6 separate regions of the Homo sapiens genome follow, and all the other regions are linked to region 6. The links come from fine-mapping of genetic effects on gene expression. A gene starts in region 6. Each other region holds a variant in brackets. All regions are shown on one strand. Distances are between the middles of the regions. Region 1 overlaps ST3GAL1 (ST3 beta-galactoside alpha-2,3-sialyltransferase 1). Region 2 overlaps ST3GAL1 (ST3 beta-galactoside alpha-2,3-sialyltransferase 1). Region 3 overlaps ST3GAL1 (ST3 beta-galactoside alpha-2,3-sialyltransferase 1). Region 4 overlaps ST3GAL1 (ST3 beta-galactoside alpha-2,3-sialyltransferase 1). Region 5 overlaps ST3GAL1 (ST3 beta-galactoside alpha-2,3-sialyltransferase 1). Region 6 holds the start of ST3GAL1 (ST3 beta-galactoside alpha-2,3-sialyltransferase 1).

Region 1 (5,191 bases), 30 kb after region 6:
AATAACAAGGGCTGATCATTGAGATGCACAGTTTGTATGGAAGGGACCCAAGAAGGAACAGAGAAGAGACTCTAGATGGCCTACAGGTCTGGGCAAAGGCCCCAGGTTTGGCATTTAGAAGTTGGGCTTTCTTATCGTTGGGTTACCCAAGCACAAGCAAGAACAAAGCAGAGACTCCACTGATGAGAAAAGATCCAATTGATATGTATTCTGCACATCTAGATTTGAAAATGGCCTCCTGCCTCTTTCTTTTGGTTGGTCTTCAAGCACCTCACCATTACAGAGGAGTGCTGTATGCATTTTAAGCAGGCATTTCTATAACAAACCTTCAAACAATGGAGTTTAACGCAGATATGAAGTAATTATAAGTAACACAAATAGTAGTATTAAATTTTTAGTTCTTTCTTACAATCAAGCATATCCAGAATGATGATGATGATGATGATGATGATGATGTTAACAGTGATAATATTTTTTGTCCATTCCCAGCTTATTATGTGCCAGGTGCATGTTCTACTGATAATTATTATTACTACTAATAATTATTATAGCTTTAAATTATTGGCACATACAATGCACTAAGTAATATATTGATTTTTTTCTCAATCTCATGAAACCAGAGCATTCGTTTCCATTTTTAATTTTTTTCAATTATTTTATTTTTATATAAATGCAAATTTATAGAAAAGTTATAAGAACAGCCAACAAATTCCTGGACCTCCTTCGTCCAGGTTTTCAAATGTTCGCATTTTATTATGTTCATTTTTTCTTTTTTCTCTATATTTTTTCCTGAAATCAGAAACTTGCATCTTAGAACACAACTTTCTAAGTCAGAAACTTAACATTAATTTGACTATTATCTAACCTTCTGATTTCTCATTCAGATTTCATCACTTGCCCCTGCTAAATTCCTTCAAGGCAAAAGAAAAGCCAGTTGGCATGTGTCTTTCTTGGAAAACTTTCTTAATCTTGTATTTCAGCACGTTAACCTTTTTGACAAGTTCAGGCCAGTTATTTGATAGAATGCACTCAATTTTGGCTTTTCTGATGTTTCCTCCTGATTAGGTTGGCAGGACTAGCCCAGAGCTGATGTGTCCTTTTCAGTGCATTGTATCAAGAGGCACTGGTGTGGCTGTCTCCCATTACTGGTGATGTTAGCTTGGAGCTCTCAGTTAAGGTGGTGTCTTCCAGGTGTCTCCACTGCAAAGTTATTGTTTCACCTTTGCAATTAATAAGCATCTCATGGGGAGAACTTCCGGGATTGTGTAGATTTCTGATTAGTCCTCAGTCTATCAGTCATTAGTTTTAGCATCTTTTGATGATTCTTGCCTGAATAGATTTATTATTATCATAGTTGCCAAATGGTGATTTTTTAAATTTTGCTGGTTCTTTTTCATTTATTAGTTGGTTTCCTACTATAAAGAAGAAATTTTCTTCCTCTGTTCATCTTTTTTTTTTTTTTTTTTTTTTGAGATGGAGGAGTTACTTTCACCCAGGCTGGAATGCAGTGGTGCAATCTTGATCTTTGCCCACTGCAACCTCTGTCTCCCAGGTTCAAGCAGTTTTCCTGCCTCAGCCTCCTGAGTATCTGGGATTATGGGCATGTACGACCATGCCCAGCTAATTTTTGTACTTTTAGTAGAGATGGGGTTTCATCATGTTGGCCAGGCTGGTCTCCAGCTCTTGACCTCAAGTGATCTGCCTGCCTTGGCCTCCCAAAGTTCTGGGAATACAGGCGTAAGCCACCATGCCCAGCCCTTCCTTTCTTTATATCAGTGTGGACTCACAGATTTTAACTTTATTCAATAGGTTGCAGTCTTTTGTGATCATTAGTTATTTTGACATTTACGTTGCCCCAAATCTGTCCACTAGGGCCTGGCTCCTGTGTCTCTAACATTTCTCCATCGTCATTTGAGCACTTGCTGCCTTGTTGTCATAGCAAGGTATTCTAGCCTCATCTTCTACTCTCCTCACCTCAGTGGTGGAATCAACATAGGAGCCCTGGTTCCTTTCCATGGAAAATGGTGTTTAGAAACCAAGATCTGGCCACTAGGTGTGCTCACTGTTTCTGGGGTAGCATTGCCTCTAGGCCCTCTGAGCAGACATAACTGGGATGTGTGTGTCTGTGTGTGCGTGGGTGTGTGTGTGTGTGTGTGGTGTATCACACAGATACCCACATTTATATACATACATAATCACATCCACATGTATATCCACACATCATTCAGATCATTTTCAAATTGACCTATCTATCTATTAAAATCACCATAGGTTCATACTAATTATGCTAGGACATTCTGGAAATTCATGTCTATCTGAATGATGCTGAACAGTCATTCTACTCTCACTATCAACGCCGCCACCAACTGCATTTATTAAACCGTGTTCAGGCCCAGTTTCAGACCCTTTCCCTTGCTGTTACTTCTGACATCAACTCGGTGGCCCAAGTACAGATGAGCAAACCAAGACTCTGAAAAGCTAATTAACTTGTGCAGATTATACAGCTGGTAAAGCAGCAAGCTTATAGCAAGCACCTGTTTGTCCCTCGGCTTTTGATCAAAAGGCCTAGGGAGAAACCTCTCTCAGGACAGAAACTAGAGCAGAAGACTGGGGAAGCATTTGTCCCTGCTGACAGCAGTGTCTGGCC[G/C]TCACAGTGTAGGCCAGCCAAAACATGTGGACCGTGTATATGGTCTGCATCTCTCAGATGGAGTCCTGTTAGGAGGTGTGTGTAGACGCACGTGGTGGTGTATGAGTTGCATGTGGGAGTGAGAGTTTCTGTGGGGGATGCAGGACTGCTGTCCTGTCCTTGTGAAGACCTTGATCAGGTTGAGGGTGTGATTACAGAACCAGGCGTCTCTGCAGAGGGAGCATTTGTTCTCTTGCAGAGTGCTTTCCTGGGAGAGCTGCTTCAGTGTGGAGGCCTTAACTTAAACACATTTGTGTCTCCAGCTCCCAGCAAACATGCAGAATGTGCACCAGATAAATGTTGGTTTCAGGCAGGCATTGACAAACATTTCTGAGCTTCTTCTGTGCCAGGCACTGCTCTAATCAGACAAAGATCCTAGCTAGGGGTGAGAAAGAGGGAGAGACACACAGTCTCTCTCTCTCTCTCTCTCTCTCTCTCTCTCTATATATATATATATATATATATATGTTTATATATATATGTCTATATATATGTCTATATATATATGTCTATATATATGTCTATATATGTCTATATATATGTCTGCATATATATGTCTATATATATATGTCTATATATATGTCTGCATATATATGTCTATATATATGTCTATATATATGTCTATATATGTCTATATATATATGTCTATATATATGTCTATATATATGTCTATATATATGTCTCTATATATATGTCTCTATATATATGTCTCTATATATATGTCTCTCTATATATATGTCTATATATATATGTCTCTCTATATATATGTCTATATATATATATGTCTCTATATATATATGTCTATATATATATATATGTCTATATATATATATATGTCTATATATATATATGTCTGTATATATATATATGGTGTGGGCAGGGGCAGGGGGTCCCAGGGCAGGGCATAGCATGGGTGTGGTGGTCAAGGAGTGTCTCTTCCAGGAAATGTTTCTAGAACAAAGTCACATGACGGACAGGAAAGAGCAAATAGGGAGGTGAGAAGGAGAGCAGGGGCTGTTGATCAAAGGATACACAGGGACTGATTCAGTCTTCTTCAGGGGGCTGTGGCTGCTGTCATTTCCCCTCAGAGAACCAGGCCTGTTTTCCTTCTGGGCAGTGTCACATGGGTGGACACTCCCCGTTGGAGCTAAAGCATTTCCTCCAACAACAAAAATGTGTTATCAGCTGGCCCAGAGACCGAATGCAGGCCAGGGCACTCTGACTAGATAAGAGGACAACCTGGCAGTCGTTCAATATTCCGATGGGCAGCAGCGAGGAGCTGTTGGAATTTCCGTTGCTGATAACCTTTAAGAGCAGCAGTGGCAGAAACAGGGGTTGTTTGGGGTGGGAGGGGAGAGGAGACTTGGGAGCACTCTGGAGTATCTGAAAGGCTGATGGGGAGAGAAGGATTAGCGGATTAATGTGTAGAGGGTGATTTTGAGGATGGATCCAAGTGGCGTGAGTGAAATGAAGAGCGGGGGAGCTTCTCATTCAGGCTGTTTTTCCTTTCTTCTTGTTCATTCAGTCATTTAGTAAATACTTACTGAGTGCCTTCCAGCTCACTGGCACTTGGCTGAGCACTGGAGGTAAAACAGAATAAGATGAGAGCTATGTCCTCAAGATGTTAATAACTTATTTGTTTCCTTGTTTTATTTACTTATTTATTTTGAGACAGAGTCTCACTCTGGTGCCCAGGCTGGAGTGCAGTTGTGCCATCACAACTCACTGCAGCCTTGACCTTCCAGGCTCAAGCGATCCTCCTGCCTCAGCCTCCTGAGTTGCTGGAATACGAGCGTGCGCCACCATGCCTGGCTAATTTTTATATTTTTTATAGAGATGGTGTTTTGCTGTGCCACTCAGGCTGGTCTGGAACTACTGGGCTCAAGCAATTCCCCAGCCTCAGCCTCCTAAAGCGTTGGGATTTCAGGTATGAGCCACCATAACTGGCCGATGATAATAATTTAATGGGAGAAAAAGATCAATTAATAAATCGGTGGTATGTTTAGGTGCAGTTCTGGTTCTTTGGGTCCTGAAGCTTATACAATTTGGGAGTTTTCTTTAAGGAAAAATAATGCAAAGTTATGACTTTGAAATAAAATGCAAGCCCTAGATAAGTGGGGTGCAGCCCAGGGGCTGGAGCGTCAGCTTCCTGGACGTGCTCTGGTTCTTTGCCCGCTTTGTGAGCTGCAGTGTCAGCGAGAGTGCCTTCTCTTACCTGCTGCCTGCCGGGTGAGCTGGCCACAAGGGGAGTTGGCGGTGGGAATCCTGGTGCTCCATGGTACAGTGAATTTACTTGCCTTCTGGATCCTCTGAGTCCTTGTGCTTGGGCTCAGGGAACAGGGCGAAAGAACTTCGTTCTTCTTGGTTCTGCTGGGATTTTCGAAGGCACTTTCCTTGAAGTTCTGCGGGCTGACCTGTGATCCCACATCAGGGACTGCATTCTCAGGAATCAGCTGAGCTCAGGAGTCCTGGGGCTGGGGGAGTGTTTGTGAGCACTCTCGCAGG
Region 2 (5,191 bases), 92 kb after region 6:
GTTGGGAGAAACCCAATATTCCCTGCTCATTTTCTGCACGAGGTATGTGCTGATTTTTGCAGAGGGTTCAGAGGACGAGCAGAGAGCAGCAGTTCAGAGTGTTTGGCAGTCTCGCAAGGTGGGGAAACAAAACAGAGATAGGTAGGTAGGTAGAGGGAGTCAGTGAGTTCAGGACTGCTAGGTCAACCAAAACCCAAGGAACCAAGAACCTAGAGCAAAAACAACCACAAAGAAAAGAACATGTGCTCTGTGCCTTCTAAAATTTTCCTTTCAAGGCATTTGCCAGCACTTAAGTTTCATGGGTCCAGAGTCTAAGAAACCAAGCAGAAAACAGCAGATGAAAAGCTAAAAAGACTGGGCATGGTGGCTCATGCCTATAATCCCAGCACTTTGGGAGGCCGAGGTGGGTGGATCGCCTGAGGTCGAGAGTTCGAGACCAGCCTGACCAACATGGAGAAACCTCGTCTCTACTAAAAATACAAAAATTAGCCAGGCATGGTGGCATGTGCCCATAGTCCCAGCTACTTAGGAGGCTGAGGCAGGAGAATCACTTGAACCCAGGAGGTGGAGGTAATAGTGAGCCAAGATCAGGCCACTGCACTCCAGCCTGGGCGACAGAGTAAGACTCTATCTCAAAACCAAAAACACAACAACAACAATGACAACAACAAAAAAACCCAAACAAACAAAAAAGAAAGGCTAAAAAGTTAAGCTTACGGTGATCTCATAGTACAGGGGAGACAGAAATTGGAGATAGGAGCCTGTAAGGAAGAGTCACCCTGATAAGCATCTTGGTTTACCTGTTGAGAACGGCTATGCCCCAGGGGTAAGAGTAAACCAGAAATAGACCAGTCTTCATGAAAAGTGAAACACAGCTGCAGTTAGAACAAAGTAATGTGCCACTTCTGTACCTGCTCATCAGGAGACAACCGGTCCTCTCTGAAGGAGGACAGCCTCATCCAGAGCCTCTGCATTTTTGTCATACACAATACAAACAGCAACCAGGCCTGCCAAGGACAGAACCAAATAACCAAAGAAAGAAAGAGCAACCGAGAAAATAGACAATAGAAATACACCCACATTATCCAAGTATCACAGGATATCCAATGTGGGCTTTAAGACGGCTGTGGTGAATAAAATTGCACAAAGATAGATGACAAGGTGGAGAAATTCACCAGCAAAGTAGAACCTGTCAAAAAATTAGGTAGAAATTCCAGAACTAAAAGACACCACTGAAATGAAGAACTGAATTCATAATTCAAATAGAGTAGGCACAGCAAGAAGGGGGAGTAAACAAGGCTGGAAAGATGACAGTAAACCAAGTCCAAAGAAGTTATCAGAAAGGGAATGGGGAAGATAGGGAAGATAAGAGCAGGTATTGATGGAATTGAATGATGAGCCACGGCTACACAGAAAGCCACAGGAGAAGGCAGGAGTCTGCCTTTGCTACCATTTTGCTGTGTGACCTTGGATAAGTCACTTGCCTTCTCTGGGTTTTAGTTTTTCATTTCAGGGAGACAAGCGTAAGGGTTACCCACCTCTCCTGGTGGCTTGGGGATCACATGAGGAAAGTTGTGGCCACTCTGTATTGAAAGCGTCAATTTTGCCAACAGCCTGCACAGTTCGCTCAGGCATTTCTCTAGTGACCATAGTGCCAGGGGCTGTGTGAAGGGCTGGGAGGGCATCCCAGCCTGTGATGGGTATTTACTACCATCCCGTTCAGTGGGTATTTACTACAGGTTCAAAACCCCGTGTGGTTCCTTCATTTGTGTTTCCAGGAGTTTCACACAGTTCTCTCAGTCTCTGGTCATTGCCCCTCAACTCCCTATTGCCAGAGGAGTTTATCTTCATTAGGGACTCTCCTTAGGGAAATTCTTACTTTTCAGTCCCCAAAAGTGTGCTGACATTTGTCAGTCTTGTGCTGGTGACCCCGCTAAGCTCTGTTGTGTGCAGGTGCTTCATGCCTCCTCGTATTGAGCATGTGGCTGGGAAATGACTGCCATTTGGCAGAGGACAGGGAGCCAGCTTCCCTCCTTCCCCATCCTTCCCTGCTCCCTCTCTTCTTTCTCCTTGTTCTGGGGGGCCCGGCCTCCCTCACCGCACACTTGACATGCAGAGATCTTTGGTCTGTGGCGTC[T/C]TGGCCCAGATGTCATTTCCGGGAGCCAGGGCTGGCATTCCCCCATGCCTGCAGGCTGCCCCACGCTTGCTAGAGCACGGAGAAGACATGCAGTCCTGGTTTCTTCCCTGCAGCCAGGGAAGGGGTATAGCGGTGTTCTTGCTTTTCCATTGCAGTTTTATCCAGGGCTTTGGAAAGCGCTAAATGATACCAGCTCAGAAGCCTCTGATGGTTATGGGGAGTGCCCTGGCCTTGGAGGTGTGGCTGCAGGATGCCCCAGAGGAGAGGAGGCTGTCACAGTCCCACAACCTGTGCAGCACAACCTTGCCCTCTGCCCTGCCTCTCACGCCATCCCTAGCAGCAGCCTAGAGCATTAATATCTCTCACGCAGAGGCAGGACATTGTAGGAAACCTGACCTCTCATCCAGAGCCTTGTTTGATCAACACGGATCAACAGTCATCTGTTTCAGGGAACTCATCTCTGCCCTGGCATTAGGGGTGCAGAGGCACTAAGGGCAAGGGTGTCCTAGGCCCTGCTCATTATAAAGGCAAATGTAGTAAGACCATGGCATTCCTCTGCTCAGCCCCACCAGCAGGTTTCTATGTCACCCAGAGAAAACTTAGTCTTGACTGTGGCTTCTCTGGCCCAACACACTCTCACCCCAGCTGCATGCTCAGATTCCCCCTCACCCCCCACCCACTCCTCTCCTCCACACTGTGTCTGATCCAGCCATACAGGCCTCCTTTGCTCCACAGGGTCTGGGGCCCTATTGATGCCTGGGAGGCGCCTACCTTAGATCCTTTTACGATGCACCCCAGCCACCTTGTCCAGGGCCTGGAGAACGCAAGGACCAGCAAATATGCAGTCAATGAATGAGATGAATGGACAACCTTGATGGGCTGACGGCCCCGAGAAATGAGCAGAATTTGTGTTATCAATCCGTTTTTCCCATTGAAGGGATGGTTCGGAAGGGCTAGGTGACTTGTTCATGGTCACGCAGTGAGTAGTGTGGGACAGGCTGCTGAGAATGGAAATGTGACTCAGAGTCTGTGCTTTCTTTCTCAGTTCTCCCTCTGGACTGTTGGCCGTTTTGTTTCCCTTCATTCATTTCTGGGTTTCTTCATGACCCAAGCCTCCACTGAGCATTGAGTGTGTGCACGGGTGACAGGGTCACTGCCATAGTGAGGCTGAGTTTCCATCCTCACATTGCTCCCAGTCCAGGGAGGAGACATATGTGTGAAGAGCACAGACAGAGTGCAGCCAGGACCCTAGGGAGCCAGGAGAGGCCCCTAACTCACCCCAGGAGAGGGCAGGGCTTCCTCCAGGAGTCAGCACCAGCTGAGCCCTAGAGAATGAGTAAGAGCCATCGGCAAAGCAGGGTGGGGTGGTTTTCTGGACAGTGGGGACAGCCTGAGCAGGGACACGGAGGTAGGAGCAACTGTGACCTCTGGGTCAGTCACATTGCTTCAAGTTACAAATAACCTACTTTACCCCATAAAGGGGATTTATTCCCTCATGTAACTGAAAAGTCAAGGTGAGGGTGGGGCTGCAGGTTGAGCAGGATCAGGGATTTAGCACCATTTGTTCGGGTTGTTCAGCTCTAGTCTCTTCTACACACGCTAGCAAAATAGCCAGCAGGATGTTCCACATGTCAACAACAAGCCAGCCAGAGCAAAAGAAAGTTTCTTCCCTCCCTACAGAAGCTTGGCTGGATGAATTAAGGCACATGCCCATCCCTGGATCAATTACTGGGGTAAGAGGTGGGAACCCTCTGCCAGTCAAGTGAATTGTGAGCCTATCTGTGATGATGCAGAAGTTATTCTTACTTAAATTACAGAGCTGCTCCTTGATGGGGGCAGGTGGGGAGAGAATTGGATGGGATACCTGTGGACACCACTAGGTTATAAACAAAATCTAGGTTGTCATGAAAAGTGAAAACTGGAGCAGAGACCGGATAAAAATGACGTTGCCAACTGAGCTGCAGAGCTCAGACCTTGTCCTCCATACGTTGGGCTTCTAGTTCTGGAAGCTGTAGAGGGTTGCACCCTATGCATCTTGGGCCCTGGATGTCTTCAGAAGGGCACTGTGGATTTAATATGGTTTTGGAGCTGTCCCCCTTTCTACCAAAAGGTGATCAATCTCCTTTCAACTCTAATTTTCCTGGAAAAAAATATACCCTGCTTATTGACAATCTACACCTTGAGAATGGGGAGGAATCGATCAGATTTCTTCCATTCTTCAGCATTCCAAGCAAAGACCAAAAAGACCACGCTCCAGGGCAGACGTGCAACCACAGTTGTACCATACAGAAATCCCAAGGTGTCGGTGAGAGCCAGAGGGGTCTCCGATGGGCATTTGAGAGGTACCTGTTTGCCTTCTTCAAAAGAATACTCCCCCCTTGCTCTATATCCCTCCAGCCGTAGTAATCTGAAGACCAGTTAACAAGACAGGTGTCTGCTCCAGGGTAGAGCCCCCCAACCCCCTGTTCCTGGTCCCCCAACCCCTCCCGATGTAAGGAATCAGAGGACTGTGGATTTGGACTCGGATCCTGCTCCTTCCTTTCCTTAGGCAAGTCATCTAAGCACTTTGAGTCTCAGTTTCTTCCAAGACAAAAAGGGAAACTAATATCTAGCTGACAGTATATTCTGAGGATTATCTGAAGAGATACGTATGCATGAATATCTCATCCTCTCAGCTCTTAGTGGATCATCAGAGAATATTGATTCATTCACATGTTGAAGAAGAAAAATTAAAGTTCAGCAATGGCCTAATAGATACCAGAAGCCCAGCATACATCATTTTATCTTATCTTCATAACCATTCTATAAGTAGGGGTGTTAGTATCCCACTTTGCAGAAGAAGAAACTGAGGGTCAGGAAGGTCAAATAACTTTCCCAAGGCTCCACAGCTGGGAAATCAGAACTTGAACCTGGACCATCTAAAGCCCCTTTTTATGGAACTGAGGCCAATTGGCAGAGCTTGAATGCCCAGGTAAAAGGAACCCTGGGCCACTCTCTAAGCATACCATTGTTGTTGTGCTTGTTGCTGAAATCCAAAATCTGGAAGAGAATGAA
Region 3 (5,191 bases), 50 kb after region 6:
TCCAGGGAGGTCCTGAGAGTCCCATGAGAGTCGACTTTGCTTTGTCACAGAGCAGGACAAGTGGCCATTCCATCTGCAATAAGACCCTTCTAAATGCTCTGCAGGAACTCCTGATGCATCCTTCCAGTGCCCCTTTGAAGTAGCTGCCACTTTAAGCATCACCATCTTCACTTTACAGAGGAGGAAATGAAGGCACAGGGAGGTTGAGTTACTTGCCTGAGGGTGCCCAGCAAAGTGGGCAGAGCCAGATTGAGGCTCAGGTGGTTTGGCTGTGGAATCTCTGTACTGCTTCTAAGGGTGGAGAAAGCAACAGCTGCACACCTTTGTGACTTGTGCTAGGACAGAGGTGTGCATGGGGGTGTGGCAGTGTCTGTGAATTGAGACCTGGACCCTCCAGTCTCCCATGTTCTCTGTGGTGTTTGGGAGATTAGCAACCCCCCACAGAAGAGTTAGGACCCACTTCCCCTGCTCCCAGAAGCCACGCAACTCCCCTCTCAGCAGGGCAGAAGGGAGAGGCCCCTTGCTGCTCGCCAGGGCCCTGGGCCAGGTGGGAGTGACAGAGCGCAGCCCCATCTGTTTGAAATTAGAAGTGAATTGAGCACAGTTGTCCAGAAACTCCATGAAGTTTAGAAACACCGTGCTGAATGTCTCCCCCAGCAAGGCTGTCTCTTCTTGAGAGATTTCATCCCTGTCTCTTCCCCACAGTGCTCATTTTCTTAGCACCTTCTCTGCCCTAGGCTCTAGGGACAGAGACAGTGAGATGAGCCCCTTCCCTCGCCTGGTGAGGGTGTTGGGAGCACACCAGGAGGCCAGAGAAGGATTGTACTCCAGGGAGGATAGTGGTGGCAAAATAACGACAGTAATTAGTGTGTCCATTTAGTGTGTGCTTGTGGAGTGTCACGTGCTTAACACTGTGCCCCTTAGGCCAGTGTTATGTTTGTCTTCAGTTTTTGGATGAAACCCAGGCTCTCAGGGGTTAACTAGCAAGACCCTGCGGCCACCAGGTGACTCTGCTGGATATGAACGTAGGCTTTTCTGTGCCAGCGCCTCAGCACCCTGGACCAGCTGGGGTACAGGGTAAAGTACTCTGAGAGTCAGATCAGAAGGCTTAAGGTCCCACTTACTGCTCTGCCCCACACAGGCTGTGTGGCCTCAGGCAAGTCAGTTGACCTCTCTGAGCCTCAGACCCTCAGCTATGACTTGGAATTGCAACACATTTCCAGAGGGGTAGAGATCAAACCACACTGTGCCTGTGATGGGGCTTTGAATTAAAGCAGGGAACCTTCTGTGCCTGGAGAGCCTCAGCATCTAGGGGCAGTGTCCTGAGCCACCATTCCAGGGAAGCCATTTGCAATTTTTTTTAGATTTTTAAAAAATGTTGCTGGGTCTGCGTTTTTCCACATCCTCTGAACTTTCCTTCCTGCTAGCTTTCTATATTGCTTCCTACTTTTTCTCTGCTTTGGGTATAAGCTTCTAGGAATAGAATTTTAAATCTTAGATGGCTTCCCCATTCTATATAGCTCTTGGGAGTGCTCACGTCAAAGACTTCTGGGAGGCTTTCTGCCCAGAGTTGGGCTGCTGGAGAAGATTATAAAGGCACCACCATTTTTAAGGTTTTTGTTTTGTTTTGTTTGGAAGTTTGGAAGTTTCATTCAGAAAAGTAACCCATGACCACTGAAACAAATCCTGAAAACAGAGAAAAGTATAAAAGCTCAAAACAGAAACAGAAAATCCTACAGAAACCACTCTCCCAGAAAGTACCTATCTTAGTAGTTCATACTGTTTTCTTTCACGGCATTTTGGTTCCTCTAGGTTAACATATACTAAAATTGGAATTATAATTCTGAAATGCTTTTCTCTTTTCGTTTCCAATTTAACAGTGTAGTAGATATTCCTCCGTGTTATTTAAAATTCTTCATGATCATTATTAATGATTGAAAACTTCTGTCCTGTAACAGATATTTTAACATATCATGGTTTAATTAATAATTTCCTTAATGTGGAGCATGCAGGAGGAGCTCTCTACATTTTGCTATTAAAAATAACATGATAGGCCTGGGGGCGGTGTTTCACGCCTGTAATTCCAGCACTTTGGGAGGCCGAGGTGGGTGGATCACGAGGTCAGGAGTT[T/C]GAGACGAGCCTGGCCAAGATAATGAAACCCCGTCTCTAATAAAAATACAAAAATTAGCTGGGCACGGTGGCAGGCGCCTGTAATCCCAGCTACTCAGGAGGCTGAGGCAGGAGAATTGCTTGAACCCAAGAGATGGAGGTTACAGTGAGCGGAGATCACGCCACTGCACTCTAGCCTGGGCAATAGAGCAAGATTCCGTCTCAAAAAACCCCCAAAAATTAGCTGGGTGTGGTGGCACACACCTGTAATCCCAGCTACTTGGGAGGCTGAGGCAGGAAAATTGCTTGAACCCAGGAAGCGGAGGTTGCAGTGAGCCAAGATTGCACCACTGCACTCTAGCCTGGGCAACAGAGCAAGACTGTCTCAAAAAAAAAAAAAAACAACCCACAAAAACAAAAATTAGCTGGGTGTGGTGGTGCACACCTGTAATCCCAGCTACTTGGGAGGCTGAGGCAGGAAAATTGCTTGAACCCAGGAAGCGGAGGTTGCAGTGAGCCAAGATTGCACCACTGCACTCTAGCCTGGGCAACAGAGCAAGACTGTCTCAAAAAAAAAAAAAAACAACCCACAAAAACAAAAATTAGCTGGGTGTGGTGGTGCACACCTGTAATCCCAGCTACTCAGGAGGCTGAGGCACAAGAATTGCCTGAACCTGGGAGGCAGAGGTTGCAGTGAGCTGGAATCGCACCATAGCACTTTAGCCTGGACGACAAAGTGAGACTCTGTCAAAAAAAAAAAAAAAAAACCCACAAAAAATAACATGATAAACATCTTTGGGCACAAAACTGCACATTGAGCCATTTCCTGGAATAGACTCCGAAAAGGGGAATTACGTATGCAGTAGAAGGAAAGAGCACTTTTTGAGGCTTTTGATACCTCAAGCAAATGTCCTTTTGTTCTAGACTGGAGGCTATGGTGGGGTGGGCTGCCAGAGACCCTGCTTCCCTGCAGGGGATTCATGTTTCTGCTGAACAGGGGTCCAAACCCATGAGCTCCTGGCTCAGGAAAGGTCCTAGGTGGGCCCATACCCAACAGCTTTTCACAGTGACTTGTGAGAAGCTCTAGGAGTCCTGATGATCTAAATTGTTTCAGTTGAAAGTGGAACAACTAGGAGCATTTTGAAGGCAGAAGTGTCAAGACGCAGAAACTTCTGTGGTGCCAGAAGAGGGGGCTGCCTCCAGCAAGATGGAATTCACCACGGAATATATACCAAGCAGCGTGTGGGCAGGTGTTGTGCACACCACACCCCGCTGCGAGTTGTCCCCGGCTCCAGCCTCTCTATGTTCCTCCCTATCAGCTGACCTCTACACACTCATTTCTTTGCATAGTCTCTGCCTCCCCTAGAATTTCAGCTCCCTTCATCTGTTTTGTTCCCTGCTGTAGACTTAGCCCCCACAAACGTTACCTGGCCCATTGCAGCTGCTCAGTAAATATGCGTGGGCTGAAAGAATGATGAGTGGGGAAGATTGTAAAGACCTGCACAGAGGTCCCAAAATATGATGCTTGTAAGTAAGAATCCTTGCCCGCATTCCTTTACTGGGTTCTTTTTGTTTATTTTGTTTTGTTTTTGAGACAGAGTCTCACTCTTTCACTCAGGCTGGAGCACAGTGGTGCAATCTCAGCTCATTGCAGCTTCTGCCTCCCAGGTTCAAGCAATTCTTATGCCTCAGCCTCCCAAGTAGCTAGGATTACAGACAAGTGCTATCATGCCCCGCTAATGTTTGTATTTTTTTTTAGTAGACATGGGGTTTCACTATGTTGGCCAGGTTGGTCTCAAACTCCTGACTTCAAGTGATCCACCCACCTCAGCCTCCCAAAGTGCTGGGATTACAGGCGTGCGCTCCCGAGCCCGGCCTCCTTTACTGAGTTCTTAATGTGTGCCTGGCATGTATCTCTCGGACACTTCCCAGGTAATTCTGTTATGGATAAGGTGACTACTGTCATCCCATTTATTTCCTGACTCATGCCAGCTTGACATTATAATAAAGCATTTCCCCCATGCTATTTTAAATTCTTTGTGAGCCATAATTTATCTTCCTTTAACATACATAAGAACATTCTGGAATTTGCTCAGTAGCTTGCACAGCTCTAGTATTTACCCAGGAATGGAATTGCTGGGGCCTAGGGTGTGCCTGTGTGTAACCTGCCTCTGTACCTCCAGGTACGTCCTTGCACCTGTACCTCCATTAGCTAGTGTGGCTAATGAGTCCACACTTTCACTCACAGGGCATGAGGCATGAGTGTCTGCACATGCCTGCTAACACTTGGCATCACTGTGCCTTCTTGGCATCACAGTGTCTTCTAATTTTTGCCAGGCTAGTAGGTGTCAAAGATGTCTTATTCTGTTTTTATTTGCATTTCTGATTGCTAATGAGGCCCTAGACCTTCATGCCTGCCCTGCCTGCCCTCACCAGGCCCCTCTGTCCTCCCTTTCCCTACCCTACCCTGACCTCCATGTCTCTTCTGCTTACCCTTCAGAATTTAACATAGACAGACGTTTGCACCTCCGAGGGGCTCTAATCTCAGGCCTCCTCTCTTCCCTCCACGGGCTGCCCTTGTCAATAGCAGCCTGAGGTCGTGTTTACAGATTCTCCTCCAGAGCCTTGCACTGCTGGGATCAGAGTCTGCTCCAGCACCTACAGGCTCTGTGGCCTTAACCAAGGGCCTTAATCTCTCTGAGCCTCAGATCCTTACTTGCAAGCTGGGGATTAAAAATAGCACCTCCTAGAAGACTTTTCTTGAGAATTAGGTGGGATAATTTATTCAAAGTGTTTGGCGCATAGTACTGCTGAGCAAATGTAGCTTTTGGGTTTTAGAGTCCTTGCAGTCCTTGCTTGTCACTATGTTTACCTGACCAGCCTCCAAGCCTAGGGAGTCCTCCTGGGTGGGGCTGTGTTTGCTGCATTTTTGTATTCCCAGCTTCCAGCAGTGCTGGGCAAACCTGAAGTCCTTGACTAATTGGTATGTGTCAGTCTCGCTGGATAAGATTTAAGCATCAAATGAAGGGTTGCTCTAGATGCCCTTTTAAAAGTCTTTTCCAACCCTGAAATTCTCTGATCA
Region 4 (5,191 bases), 81 kb after region 6:
TGCCTACCTGGTGGCCAGCTCAGACAGAGCTGGGACAGAGCTGTCTCTAGCACCTCTGGCCATGAGGGTGTTTGGCCATTCCCAGCGGTCATTCGGCGTAGCTCAGTTTATCTCTCCTGCCAGAGTCGCCTCCTTATTGGACGGAGGGTGAGGAGCACTCGTGATCACTTTGTGGGGAGAGTGGGCAGAGTAGGGCTGAGTGGAGGTGAACTCCCCCTGCCGCATGGACGCTCCCCGAGGTGGGGTATGGGCGCCATCCAGAGAGACCAGCTGAGGCCGAAAGGTAGATTCTTAGCATGAAGAGCTGGGCCTCTGGAGCCGGGCTGTTTGGATCACCTTTTATCTTATTTTTTTGAGACAGAGTTTTGCTCTGTCACCCAGGCTGGAGTGCAGTGGTGCGATCTCAGCTCACTACAACCTCCACCTCCCAGGTTCAAGCAATTCTCATGCCTCAGCCTCCCCAGTATCTGGGATTACAGGCACATGCCACTACGCCCAGATAATTTTTGTATTTTCAGTAAAGACAGGGTTTCACCATGTTGGCCAGGCTGGTCTCGGAAATCCTGACCTCAAGTGATCCACCTGCTGCAGCCTCCCAAAGTGCTAGGATTACAGGCTTGAGCCACCACGCCTGGCCCCATTTCTTCACTTTGAAAGAGAACATACCACCCCTTGGTAAAGCTGTTGAGGTCAAACAAGCAACCTAAGAGAAGTGCTGACTTGGAGCCTGGCACAGAGTTGGTGCACTTTAGGGACAGGACCCAGTGCTTTCTTCCCCAGCCATCTCCAGGACTCATGAGCTGGGGGTGCACTTGGGGAGACATCAATACTAGTATCTCAGTCTCTCCATGGTCCACGCCTCCTGACCCCCAGGGACAGGCTCTGGGAATGCCTCCTGGTCAGAACTGGCCTCTGTTCTCCCACCTGCTTGCTGGGCCTCTGCTGGTCCAAGCTGCCCAGTGTCCCCTCGTATCGTCCATCCCGAGCCTCACCAGGGCTGCCAGGCCTCAGCTGCTCTGAGCATGCCCTGACCCCGTGGTGCCGATCCTTGCCCATATGCTCCGGCCACCCATGTTTTCGCTCCTCCCACTGGACAGCTTGGCAGCCCCTGGTCAAGAGGGCAAGGTCTCCCTCCTTTCCTGACTGCTGGGCCCTTTCTGATGAGAGCTACTCTTCCTCTCCTCTGGGGCCCAGGTATGGGGGTGGGGCTGAGCCTGGGCCAGGGCAGTTTAATCCTGTGATCCAACTGGACACCGTGACACCCCTCCAACCTTCAGTGTGTAGGGATGGGATGGTTCATGCGAAATGCCTGCTGTCGCCTGACGCTCCCACCCATCCCGGAACCCTGGAGGGTGCTGCATGCCTCGCCATTGTAGTAGCTGGGTTTATAACGTGATCTTAATCCCCATTAGGGACACTGCTAGAGGCTGCCCCTCAGCTCCTTCAGGCACCTCCTGGATGCCCCTGAAAATCAGTAGCATTAAAATATTTCCGTGAAGTCACGGACTAGGGAGAAAGGGGCCTCTTTAAGCCACGTGTCAGACTGTGAATCTCGGCTCCAGAGCGGCCACACCTCCAGCCCTTCCTTTATGCTGAGGGTTTTAGAACCAGCGACAGATGCCTGAGGGCAGGTGTAAGGGGCATTAGGAGCTCTGAATTGTCTCTTCTTTATCAGCCTCCAGCACCACCCAAATGGGGGGAAATCCTTTCTTCTGGGACAGGTGTGAGCCTGGGTGCGCGCATAGTGCAACCCCTGGAATTCCCAGCCACGTTACACGCTTCTAATGTCATTTGGCTATCCTAGGACTCCAAATGTAGCACTCCTCGATCCACACACATAAGAAGATTTGTGGATTTAAATTCTTTTTGTGAGGCTATGAATATGAAAACATATTCGCCTCCTTCTCATGTGACCCTAATCCTGGTTAATCGTGTTTCTCTGGGGCACTTCTCCACACTGCCTACTCTGAGCCACTATTTGTGCTTCAGCAGAATCTTTTTTTTCCCCGACTTCCCCAGCAAAGGAACAAGCAGGAGGCACTAAGGTGCAAAGAGGAAGATTTGCAAGCACATCGAAGGGTTCTCCCAACCTGCTGGCACTGCTGGGCTGTGGGGCAAATGGGCAGGCGCCGATGCAGAAAGGAGCAGGGAAACAGGCTCCAAAGGAAACGGACTTCCCAAGTCATGCTCATGGAGAC[C/T]GGGCCACTCTCTAGACTCCCACAGGGTGTCCTGTGCACCCCTCTCCAGTCCAGCCACGATGTGCCAGTTGCAATCACTACTGTCTGCTGCTCACAAGCCAGCCGGGCTCCCCTTTGCCTTCAGTCCCCAAGTCCACGTTCCTCAGGACTTCCACGATCCAGCTCCACCCACAGCAGCCCCTCTGAAGGGCGCCCTGTTTTCTGTAACATACCAGCGTCTCCATCATCACCACCATGTGCTTTTTTGGGCACAGGCCTGGTTTACCCTCCCCCTCTGCCCTCCTCCATCAGTGCTATGCCCCCTGTCTCCATGGCCACCTGCCTTACACAGCCTTCCCTCTCCCTTTGGTTGTCATTCACCTGCCACTTGTGGATCACTAAGGCCCTTGGCATCATGTCTTGGGAGGCACTGGTTCCTCCTGAGCAGATTTATGCGTGTGAACTGCCCTGGGCTAGATCCTGGAGCCGGCCTAGTGTGCGGCTTCGCTATCTAGCAGTGAAGATACGCATGCCGCCAGCTGTGTTCTTGAAGCATCGCAGGCATGCTTGGGTACCTGGGTGAGGTACGGCAGTGGAGCATGGAAGAGCAGGCTCAGGAATCGGCCCTCACCCCTTCCTAGCCATGTGACCTGGAGTAAGCCACTGATACCCAAGGGCCTCAGCATCCCCTTCTGTAAAATGGGATTATGGTGTCACCTCCCTCATAGGACCTGGAACTGCACTTTAGCTAGTCCCTAAAATACTGCGTAGTCTCTCAAAGCCCAACTTCCTTCTCTGCCCAAAGAGCAAATGCCTGCCCGAAGAGCCCCTGGGGACTTTCGCCAGGCATCCACACACAAGAAATGTATTAGCTATGGATGGGTCAGGCATGCACAGATAAGTTGGGGAGGGAGTGAGTTGGAGAGAAGGAGGGGCAGACCAGAGGCCACTAGATCTAGTTAGAGATATTCCATGGGCTTTTGTCTGCAGGCTTATCAAACAATGAGGATTCTTTGATATTTAAGCCCGGCAGGAGTCAGAGAACAACAGGAGAGGACCCAGCAGATCAAACTCCAAGAGGGGCCCAGGAGTGGGCGGTGGTCAAGCCACAGGCGCTGATTGGAGCAGCCATGGGCGGGCTAAGGGGACCTTGCCCTCTGGCTCTACTGGTGTTGACTACATTTCTATGGGAGGGACTGATGCTGTCATCAGGGAGCTTGGGGGACAGGCTTCTTGGAGTGTCCCCCTGGTGGGACCTGGAATGTGTTGAACTTGGCTGAGTGGTGCAAGGGATCCCCTGGTGCCATCCCTGCCAAAGACCCTATCAGTGTCATGAGCCTGAGGATGAAATCTCCCGATGGGTGAGTGCCCCAGCAGCAGTTGGAGCAGAGTTTGGGCAGATTCTAGCGAGAGCAGCTACCCAAGGTGGAGGGGAGGCCAGGGCTCAGGGCATCCAGCTGACCCACGTGCTTCTTGCAAATCCTCTGAGGTGGCCAGCGCCTCAGAGGGGTGTCCGGGGAGGGGCGGGAGGCATGGCTTTCTGTGGGGCACAGCTCCTGGGGCACTCATTGCTTAGACCACATTGTCAGCTGTGCCCCTTGGAGTTAGGTCTGCGGGGTCACCTGGACTGGTCATGGTGCTGGCAGGACACAAATGGTGCATTCAAAGTGGGCAGTGGAGGGGAGCTGAGTTGAAAGGTCATTCACAAGGTCATAGTGTGGTGTAGGAAACAGCAAGTGTGGTGCAGTCCCTGGGGCTGGAAATGGTGGGACTGTTTCCAACCCTAGGGCTGAAGGGACAAGAGGACATAGACTTACTGAGACCCCCAGGACACAGCTAATGTGTGGATGGGGTCATTTGACAGGAGCAAGGGACCATCAGCCCTTGGCTGTCCCACAGGGAGGGCGCCAAGGCAGTCACTGCCTGTCCCCAGTTCCCTCTCTCCCTCTGGCCTTCCTCCAGGGCTTCCTGTGGCTCCCAGGAGGTTGTCCAGACTTTAGGGGGGCCACCAGACCTTGCCTGGCCCCCCCTGTCTGCCAGTGCCGCTGCAGTCTTCCAATCCACTTGACTTTGTTTTCTTTCAGTTCGTTGGACTCACCTACTGTCCCCACAGGCCTTCATACCTGTAGCTTCCCCTGCCTGGGAGGCTCTCACACTCCCTGCCCAATCACCTGTCCACCCTGTGGACCCTCAGTCACTACCACTTCCCCCAGACATCAGCCAGTCCCTCTTACGCCCTCTGCTCGTGGCACTGAAGGCTGCCAGTCAGGGCTCTCCAGGGGAGCAGAGCCTATCCCATATTTGTGTATGCATATTAAGAGATTCAACTTTCGGAACTGGTTCAGGCAGTTGTGGAGGCTGCCAGGTTCAAAACCTGGTGGGCAGGCCAGAGGGCTGAAATCTCAGGCAGGACTTGACTTCTCTGTTACAATCTTAAGGCAGAATTTCTTCTTTTCCAGGGAACCTCAGTTTTTGCCCTTAAGGCCTTCAACCTATTGGATGAGGCCCACCTGCATTCATCTCCTTTACTTAAAGTTAACTGATTGGAGAGCTTAACCACATCTGCATGCTACCTTCCCTGAAATACCTAGACGAGTGTCTGACCAAACTACTGGACTCCATGGCCTAGCCAAGCTGGCTCATTACATTTATTTATTTACTTAGAGATAAGTCTCGCTCCCCCAGGCTGGAGTATGATCATAGCTCATTGCAGCCTTGAATTCCTGGACTCAAGTGATCCTCCTGCCTCAGCCTCCACATAGCTGGGATGACAGGGGCAAGCCACATGCCTGCTGATACATTAAATCTAACCATCACAGCTGGTCTTTTGTGTGATTCCTTAATAATCTCAGCCTCTGTCCCACCCTGTGATGTTGCTTTCAGTGAGCAAGGACGAAGATCATTCTACTTTCTCTCTCCTTTTTTTTTTTTTCGACAGAGTCTCGCTCTGTTGCCCAGGCTAGAATGCAGTGGTGCAATCTCGGCTCACTGCAACCTCTGCCTCCCGGGTTCAA
Region 5 (4,000 bases), 110 kb after region 6:
TGGTGTCTGAGCAGGGTGGGAGTAAGACACAGCTAGAAGGCTTCTGCTATTTTTCTCTCTTTCAAGTGGTGACACGTAGGGGGATGGAGGGCCTTTCAGAGAGACAGGAGCCCCCAGGGAGGAGCAGGTTGGAGAAACGCTGATCACATGTGGAGTGGGAGGGGCCTGTGAGTCCAGGTGTGGCTGGATCACCCAAGCGGCTTCAGCAGTGCCTGGCACATGGTAGGTGCTCAGTAAACACTTGCAGAATACATGAATGCTCTCTTTACTTCCTGAGTAACCCTTAGTCTCCTTGAAGGAGGAAGTGGAGGTGTCTGTGTGTGAGCCGCCTCCATCTCCGGGGGCCCAGCAGAGAGAAGGGTGAACAGGAGGGCCCCAGTAAACGACAGCAGGTAGCTCAGGGGCTCTGCTGCCAGGAGGCTGGAGCCACAAAGCCAGGTTGACCACCTTCTGTCCTCCGCCCACAGAGGCTCCAGCGGGAGAAGAAGCCCAATAACTTGAATGACACCATCAAGGAGCTGTTCAGAGTGGTGCCTGGGAATGTGGACCCTATGCTGGAGAAGAGGTCGGTGGGCTGCCGGCGCTGCGCCGTTGTGGGCAACTCGGGCAACCTGAGGGAGTCTTCTTATGGGCCTGAGATAGACAGTCACGACTTTGTCCTCAGGTGAGTGCCAGACCCTCTCCCAAGCCTACCGTGCTGCACCCAGGGGCCCCTTGGAGCTGTAGGAAGCATCTTGGCTCAGGCTCAGGAAGGCAAGGTTCAGTCCTGGGACTGAACTTACCCAGGGACCCCAGGCTCCACACTGCACCCCCTGGGCCTCAGCTTCCCCATCTCTGCATCATTGCAGGATTGGAATGGACTAGAAGGGCCTCTGCGTGCAGAGAGGAAGCCATACACGGGAGGTCCCCCGTTGTTGGGAGCTTGGCACATGGAGGCCTGGGGAGAGGGCAAAATTAATGTGAGGACTCTTATCTTTAAAATTCATCCCCATTTTGTAATCTAGGCCATAATAAAACCACATATTTTATGTAAAATATATTTTCCCCTGTCGCCAAGTGAAACAGACATTTCAGGAAGATGCCCCAAGTCTGTCCTGGGTCTCCTGCCATTCCCACTATACCACTCACAAGTGTTCCACGCTGAGAAGTGCAGGGGTGGGGGCTGGCCATCCCCAGCAGCCTTCTAGAATAGTCTCTCCTGTCTGTGATTCCTGACTTTAGTCCTTAGACCACTTACCTGCCTCTCAGAGCCTCAGTGTACCAGGTGTCCCATGGGTACATCCATGGTAAGGATCAGAGTCAGGTTTCCTTGACTGCAAAAAAAGGGCTGTGGAAATATCCTTTGGATGAGATTGTCTGTGACAGGCGGGCAGTGGTGGTGATGGCTAGACTCCCTTGAGGTCATGAAAGAGAGAAAAATAGCAGAAGCCTTCCAGCTATGTCTTCATTGTCTCTATTTTACAGATGAGGAGAAGGAGGCCCGGGGAAGGCAGGTGACACCCCTGAAGTCACACTGGAGGCTCACTCTCTCGGAGCTCTCAGGCTGTCTGAGAACGGGTGCCCGTGCTACAAGACTCAGCTTTCTCCCCTTCTCTCCCAGGATGAACAAGGCGCCCACGGCAGGGTTTGAAGCTGATGTTGGGACCAAGACCACCCACCATCTGGTGTACCCTGAGAGCTTCCGGGAGCTGGGAGATAATGTCAGCATGATCCTGGTGCCCTTCAAGACCATCGACTTGGAGTGGGTGGTGAGCGCCATCACCACGGGCACCATTTCCCAGTGAGTC[C/G]CTCCTGTGGCCCCGCCTCGCTGCTCTGCCCCTTGCAGTGGCACCCTGTCCCCCCACCCTGCCGTGGTCCTGCTGTGCCTCCACCGGGGTGCCTCCCCTCCCCCAGCCTCCTCCGGCACACACAAGCCCAGTTCCCGTGGCCGCCTCCCCGACTACTCCAACTCTTCTCTCCCTATCACTTAACAAACCACAAGCTTTAGTGTCCTCTTGCTAACAATTCCTGAAGGGACCTCCACGCGCCCTGGAGACTCTATGGGAAGGGGCCGCCACTAGAAAGGGTCAGCCCATGTGAGTTCAGCCTCCCTTTATTTCTGAAGTGCAGCCTGACAAATAACAACACCTTATTTTTCAAACTTATGTGAGCGTGGCAGGGTGAGGGTTCCTAAGAAATGAGGAGTGGGGAGTGCAGGTGCAGCCTGGGCCCCTCCCCAGGGCAAGCAGTGCTGAGCAACGCGGCTGTGGCTTCCCTGACAATCAGGAGCTTAGTTTCCTGAGCAGACACCGCACGTGGCACTCGGCACATATTATCTCAATGAATCCTCACAATAGCCATTATCATTAGCTCCTCCCAGTGAGGACTCTGGAGCTCGGCCAAGCACCTTGCCTAGGGTTGAACTCGACACAGAGCCTGTGCTGTCATCTGACCCTTACTGAAGGGAAGTGTTTTGATGTCCAGGTTTCCACAAGCTGTCTGTCTTCTGCCAGGTTTTCTAGGAACAGAGCTAGCCCCCGGATGTGGGTGCAGGAGACTGTGGAGCTGTGCCCTCAGGAGACCGGGAGTGAGGGAGGCAGACCGGGGCGGGGTGGGGTGGGGTGGGACCCAGGTCCAGAAGTGGCTCAGCTGCAGTCTCTCTGGGAGCAGGAATCACACCCGTGGGACCAGCTTTGGCACCTTTGCACTCAGGGTGCATGCAACCGCCCAGGTGAGAAAGGGGCAGCCGCGGGCCTCACCAGCCAGTGCCCCAGCAGCTGGGCAAAGGTGCTCTGGCCCTGAGAGGTGGAGGCACCACGGCCCCACTCCACTCCTTAAGGCTGTGCTTGGAGCAAGTCCTCCTCACCTTTTTGGGGAATGGGGCCAAAACCCAGCAGAATGTCCTCAAATTAGGAAAGGCCGTCCTCTGGTGTCTATTGGGGCTTGCTGTGGGCAGAAACCCGGCTGGGGTAGGGAGGTGGGGGTCCCTGAGGGAAGCTATGGGGGGCAGGAGAGGCTATGCCTGCTTCATTATCTAGCCACTACCCCCAGAGCTGCATGCCCAGGTTCCTGGGCCTGTCCCCTGCCCCATTAACCAGCTTCTCTTTCTCCAACTGCAGCACCTACATCCCGGTTCCTGCAAAGATCAGAGTGAAACAGGATAAGGTGAGTGGAGGCCCCGGCCCCTCTGTTCTAAGTTCAGGCTTCCTCATCTAAGGCTCTGCTCTAAGGTACGGCATTGAGTTGCAAGACAGCCCCCAGATCCCCAGGCCGCTGGAGGTAGCATCTCCCACTTAGCTATCCCCCTGGGGGAAGAGGTCAAACACTGGGAGAGATTCTCAAAGTGGGGTCCCCCGGGCCAGCAGCATCACCCGGGAGTTTGTCACAGATGGACATCCTCAGGCCCATCTCGAACCTACTGAATCAGAAACCCTGGCTGCCCCGCATTCTGGTTTTAACACATTCTCCGGGGACCCCTGTGCTTGCTGCGGTTTGTGAATTACTCTCAAAGCCAGGCTGCACCTCCTGCTTCTCCATCTCTTTCCATGTCTCCATCTTCCCCAGCAGGCCCCTGGCATGGGGCTGGCCAAGAGATGGGCAAAGGGCAGAAGAAGGAGGGAAGTGAGGTACCCACCACACTGGCCTTTTGCATACTCTATCAAACTTAGATAGGCTCGGAGAGGTCAGGAAACTTGCCCAGAGACACACAGCTAGTTCTGGATAAGGCTAGAATTGAAGACTCCCCGTGCCTCCAGCATCTTGCCCTTTGCATTGGGTTGTGCTGCCTCAGGGAAGAAGCCACTTATGTGTCTCTATAGGGTGGGGTTGGTGGAAGGGACAGCCTCCTAGAGATGGTAGGAGGCCACACTGAGAGGTGAATGGTTTACCAGAGACCCACAGAATCCACCCTTCCAGTCCATTCCTAGGGGCTGGAGTTTGGCTTTCTGGACGTGCACGCCCTCTCCTGCCTGAGAATTCCCTTTCGTTGTGCTCAAGGCAGGCTTTGGGTGGTGGAATCAAG
Region 6 (4,583 bases):
GCTGGTGGAGGGGACAGTAGCCGATGTAAGCAGAACTCTCTGCCCCCCTCCTCCCATGCACACAAGCAATCTGGAGATGCAGTGAACACCTTGACCTGAGTTTCAGAAAGAGGAAAGCCCACAGGATGTGTCCAGGCAGACAAAAGGGCTCACCCCTTCTCTAGAATTCTATCAAAAACCAAGGGCGTCAGGCAAGAGGTCTCAGAGCAGGTCCCGAAGTACCTAAAAGGCTATTCATCTTTTCCTTCCCTTTCTAGTAGTTATTTTTCTCATTCTCTCTCCTCCCCCTTTTAAAAGCTGGTTTTTCTTCTACTTTTCTCATCTCTGAATATTTCTCCTTTTCTCTCCCAAGTCCCTGAAGTCTTCCCCAACACCCTAGCCCCCATCTTCTAGCACAGGTCATCTTCCTGCTGTGGGCAGGGACCTGACACTGGAGAAACCCACCATCTACACAGCTGACTTACTACATGTCAAAGACAGTTCTAAAGGTTCTATGTGTACGAATTCACTAACTCATCACAACAGCTTTATCAGACAGACACTTCTTAGGTCGGTTCTCACAGATGAGGACACCGAGGCACAGAGTCACCTAGGCTGGGAGGTTCAGTCACTAGCCCAAGCTCACACATCCGTTGAGTGGCAGTGCAGGATTTGAACCAAGAAGTCCGGCCATGCGGGCCCTGGCCTGAATCCCTGTACTACAGCAGCCGTCTGATGAAACAAAGGCTGGGGGACTCTCCCCTTCCACTGCAAAAGGTTGATCTCTCTCCAGCTGGAGCAAGGGGCGCTGGAAGGATGCAATGACCCCAAAGGCAAACTGTGCCTCTTTCCTCTAACATTCCTCCGAAAAGTTGCGAAAGAGGTAGTCTCAGTAAGGGGTTAAGAACCGTAAAACCAGATTTACATGACTTGTGTACTGCATTTAGCATCAAAGCGCTGCACTCTGCCTTTCAGCAAAAGAAGTCTCCACCGCCCCCGCTTCCCTGTAAAAGAGGGAGGGCTGAATAACTGCAAGCCTAATCCGCAAACCCCAAGCTCCAGCCGCAGCCTCCGCATCTGGAAGGAAAAAGCGGCGGCAGGCGAGCCAGGGCAAGGGCTGGGCCAGGGCCGGGGCCGGGACCAGGGCCGGCCGCAGTGCCCGGCTCTGTGGCTCTGAACGCGGTTCTGGCCGCAAGAGTCGTCCAGCCCACGCTCCTCCCTTCCCCCTCCCTAAATCCCACCTCGAGTCCCGCGCCCTTAGAGGAAGTGGGTGGCTCTGCCCGGTCGCCAGCAGGGGATCGGCCCCTTCTCCCCACCGTGCCCCCGACTCGAGTTCTTCTGGGCACTGCCATCCTCTCGGTGCGTGCCCGTCTTCCTGCTGAAACGGACCCCAGTGGCTCCCGGGCCTCCCGGGCGCTCTTCCTTAGCCCCGCCAGCTTGAGGGCCGCGTCCAGAGAGCGGGGAGCTCCTCTCGGGGCGCCGATCAGGTCCCCGCGCCGCAGCCGCCGCCTCCGGCGTCTCCCAGGCTCGGCCTCTGCCGAGCCCGCTGCGGTCCACGTGGCTTGGCAGAGCTAAATTCGGCTTGCAGGAAGCCCGGAGCCAAGGGAAAGCCGAGCCAAGTTGGGGTGGGCGGGGCCGAACGGAGGCGCAGAGTCGGGAGGGGCGGGCACTGGGCGGAGGAAGGGGAGGGCCGCGCGCAGGGGAGGCGGTGGCTGGGCTCTGGCGCGCCCTGGCACCCGGCCCCGGCCGGCCAGGGAAGGCGGCCCCTCCTCGGTCGCCCCGCCTTTCACTCCCGTTACACCCGGGGGAAGGTGTTCCCGAGCCCTCTCCCACCCTCATCCCGCCTCCTCGCTTCCTCGGCTCCAGCCTCCGCCGGCGGAGCCCACTATGCCAGACAGTTTCGACACTTTGCAAAGACAAAGAGCCCTAGACCGGAGGGAGGAGGAGGAGGAAGAAGAGCGGAGAGAGAAGGAAGAGGCGATGTGAGCTGGGAAGGGGGCAAGTGTCCGGGACACCCACACCCCTGTATTCTCCTCCGAACCCCTTCATGCCCAAATCCCGGAAACTCCAGCGTGTCTCCAGCCGTGGTGAGTGCGCGCGCGGAGGCGAACCCTGCTCGGGGTGCGCGGGGGCTGCGTCCGCCTGAGTTGGGGCTCGGGCAGTTTCCTGTGGATTCTCGGAGTGGAAGGTTGATTGTCTGGACCCGGGAACTGAAGGGGTGGGGAGGGGACTAGGAGGGTGTGACAGTGGAGCTGGGACTGAAGACCCCGGGATTCTAGTGGAAGACATTCGAAGGGAGACCCCTTCCTTGGCAGCGGCGACCACCCAGGGCTTTGGGAGAGGAAGAAGGTCGGGGTGGAGGTTCGGGCTTAGGGGTCTTCGGCCGACACTGGAGGAGCTGCCTGGAGCTCTGTGGGGAACCTACGCCAAGTCCCGGGCAGCGGTTCCCGAAAGCAGCCCCAGTGACATTGCACCCGGCGCCGGGCTGGGATCTCCTCCGCTGGGGCCGCCCGTGGGAGGAGACCTCGCTGGGTGGCCGGGCTCAGGCGCTCTCGAGCGGATTTGGGGTCACAGGCTGGGACACCGCGGAGGCCGCCAGTGTTCTGGACGAGCGGCCGTGGGACAGTATCCGGATCGAGTCCCCCAATCCGCTGCAAGCAGGCGCAGATCCGGGAGGTGGCTATCGGCCCCGGGGACGCCGTCAGAGCGCGCTGCTCCGGATCTGGGGGTGAAGTTGACACCCGGGACAAGAGAGCTGAACGCGGCGTGGCGGACAGTGGGGGACGCGGGTGGGCCAAGGAGAGCACGGCCGGAGTCGTGTTAGTGGCAACTCGAAACTCTGAATCCGCCCCAACCCCGTGAGGCGTCGCAGCTCCCAAGAAATAATCTGACAAAAGTTAGCAACTTGCCTGTGTCTCTCGTGTGTGTGACCTGCGTGGGGGCAGGGCCACCCCTTCTGGGAGCGCACGGGGACGGACAGCGGTGACCCTGGGGCGAGGCGCTCTGGTGAGGGTACAGTTAGTTTGGAATCGGGACGGTGGCGCAACTTTCCGCTCCTCCTTTCTCTGCGCGAGTGTTTAAGCGTGACCTTGCGGGAGGAAGCGCGGCTGAACTTGAGATGGGGGTTGAGCTTGCGCCCCGGCTTGGCACAGAGACGTCGGAGCGCGCATTAGCCTGGCCTTGCAGCCGGGTCTCCCAGGAAGCGTGTGGGGATCGTCTGGCTCTGCTCGTCAGCTGGAGCCCTGACTCGCTCCTCCCTCCTACGCTAGGGTCCTCGGCGGCCGTACCATGCGCGGGGCTCGGTGGTGTGTTGGGCGAGGGGACACGTGCGCACCCAGAAGCGCGCAAGGGGGTGGGGGTTGGGCAGGTCACTGCGTCTCGCGGGCTGGGCGAGTCCCGCAGAGGGAGTCAGCCGTGACCCTGAGGGCAGTGACTGGCTCGCCGCGTCCCTGCATCAGGCATTCGCCCGGCTTTCTCGTGATTGTTTCCGGGCACCCCTGGCCTCTCCCGACTTCTCCCCCTCGCGGGTCCCCAAGCCCCGCAAGTTTGCGACGAGCTGGTTCTCCAGGGAGACAGCGAGCGCCCACCCCCGCTCTGCGGCTGGGTGTGTGTGGTGAGAGGAAGAGACGGGAGGAGGAGGCGAGGCCGACTCGCCAACGAGGAAAACGGGGTGAGAGGGGAGCCGGGTTTTCCAATAGTCGCCAGGGCGCCTGGCACGTCGTAGGTGCTAACGCAGTGTTCATTGACAAGGCCCCAAGGTGGAAGGTGCTGGCAGGGGCCCGGACGCCCCCTTCTTCCCTTCCAGTCTCTAAAATGGAGTTCAAATGTATCGACCAAGCCCTTTAGGCTTCTAGACGTGCCTGGAGCACCTACTACGTGCGGGGGCTCTACTCCTGGCCTGTTCGTAGAAGCTGCGGGCGGAGCCTCCTGATTTTCTTTACCCCGCGCTGCCCAAGCGCCCAGAGGCTTCGAAAAGGCAAGGTGCACTGCCCCCTGCCGGCTGCTGTGGAAACTGCCGCTTGTCTCTGCGGTGGGGAAGGGGCGCCCAGTGCGGGGGTCCCTCAGTGCCTTCCCGCACCTCCCCTTCCTGCCCCAAACATTAGGACCCCTGCCGGCTGTTTTCTGAAATCCCATGGTTGGCTGAAATGACTGACTAGAGTTCACCACTCCGTGCCCCTCAGCCTCTGCCAATATCTGGGTACAGCGTGGGGCCTCTTCTAGTCTCCCGTCTCTCTGTCTCTGTCTCTCTTTGGTCGCCAGACTTAACCTCTCGGCGTCTCAGTTTCTATATCTGCAAAATGAGGCCAATAATACATTCTCCAAAATACGTTCTGCATAATTGCGAGTGGCGATAATACATATAATTAAGTGAATGTGTGTATGTATAGGTAGTTCATACTCTACATGTGTGTATGTGTATACCTTGACTTCAGGTCTAGGGAAAAAAGTTCCATCGTACACTTTTTGCTAAATAAAGAATGAATAGAGGGCTCCTTCTCCTCTTGCCTTTTCAAAATCCCACAAACCCTGAAGTTTGCTTTCCCTGCATTTTTCTGGGCCGGCATTTGCTGTTTAGAGTCTGATTGGACAAGGCCAGGACCTGG

The links. PIP is the estimated chance that this variant, and not a neighbour inherited with it, causes the effect.
Region 1: its variant is fine-mapped to the expression of ST3GAL1 in whole blood (GTEx, PIP 0.95).
Region 2: its variant is fine-mapped to the expression of ST3GAL1 in whole blood (INTERVAL, PIP 0.95).
Region 3: its variant is fine-mapped to the expression of ST3GAL1 in whole blood (TOPMed, PIP above 0.99).
Region 4: its variant is fine-mapped to the expression of ST3GAL1 in whole blood (INTERVAL, PIP 0.99).
Region 5: its variant is fine-mapped to the expression of ST3GAL1 in whole blood (TOPMed, PIP above 0.99).

What each region holds. Positions count from the first base shown.
Region 1 is chr8:133,539,059-133,544,249 of GRCh38, reverse strand. The region is part of intron 2 of ST3GAL1 (ST3 beta-galactoside alpha-2,3-sialyltransferase 1); the gene reads left to right. Among named protein-coding and RNA genes, the nearest start is that of ST3GAL1-DT, 29 kb to the left of the region's middle. The variant G/C (reference allele first, on the strand shown) is at 2,648.
Region 2 is chr8:133,476,957-133,482,147 of GRCh38, reverse strand. All of the region lies in intron 3 of ST3GAL1 (ST3 beta-galactoside alpha-2,3-sialyltransferase 1), which reads left to right. Among named protein-coding and RNA genes, the nearest start is that of ST3GAL1-DT, 91 kb to the left of the region's middle. The variant T/C (reference allele first, on the strand shown) is at 2,138.
Region 3 is chr8:133,518,459-133,523,649 of GRCh38, reverse strand. The region is part of intron 2 of ST3GAL1 (ST3 beta-galactoside alpha-2,3-sialyltransferase 1); the gene reads left to right. Among named protein-coding and RNA genes, the nearest start is that of ST3GAL1-DT, 50 kb to the left of the region's middle. The variant T/C (reference allele first, on the strand shown) is at 2,131.
Region 4 is chr8:133,487,885-133,493,075 of GRCh38, reverse strand. The region is part of intron 3 of ST3GAL1 (ST3 beta-galactoside alpha-2,3-sialyltransferase 1); the gene reads left to right. Among named protein-coding and RNA genes, the nearest start is that of ST3GAL1-DT, 80 kb to the left of the region's middle. RefSeq lists enhancers at 1,789-2,334, 3,812-4,595. The variant C/T (reference allele first, on the strand shown) is at 2,199.
Region 5 is chr8:133,462,558-133,466,557 of GRCh38, reverse strand. It overlaps ST3GAL1 (ST3 beta-galactoside alpha-2,3-sialyltransferase 1), which reads left to right. Exons shown (of 10, transcript NM_173344.3): 6 at 468-664; 7 at 1,601-1,780; 8 at 3,099-3,144. Among named protein-coding and RNA genes, the nearest start is that of ST3GAL1-DT, 110 kb to the left of the region's middle. The variant C/G (reference allele first, on the strand shown) is at 1,788.
Region 6 is chr8:133,569,176-133,573,758 of GRCh38, reverse strand. ST3GAL1 (ST3 beta-galactoside alpha-2,3-sialyltransferase 1) reads left to right here and starts at 1,872. Exons shown (of 10, transcript NM_173344.3): 1 at 1,872-2,066. It overlaps ST3GAL1-DT (ST3GAL1 divergent transcript), which reads right to left and starts at 3,187. Exons shown (of 2, transcript NR_186509.1): 1 at 2,889-3,187; 2 at 1-2,701. RefSeq lists silencers at 1,123-1,182, 1,373-1,862 and enhancers at 3,653-3,872, 3,232-4,085, 4,043-4,112.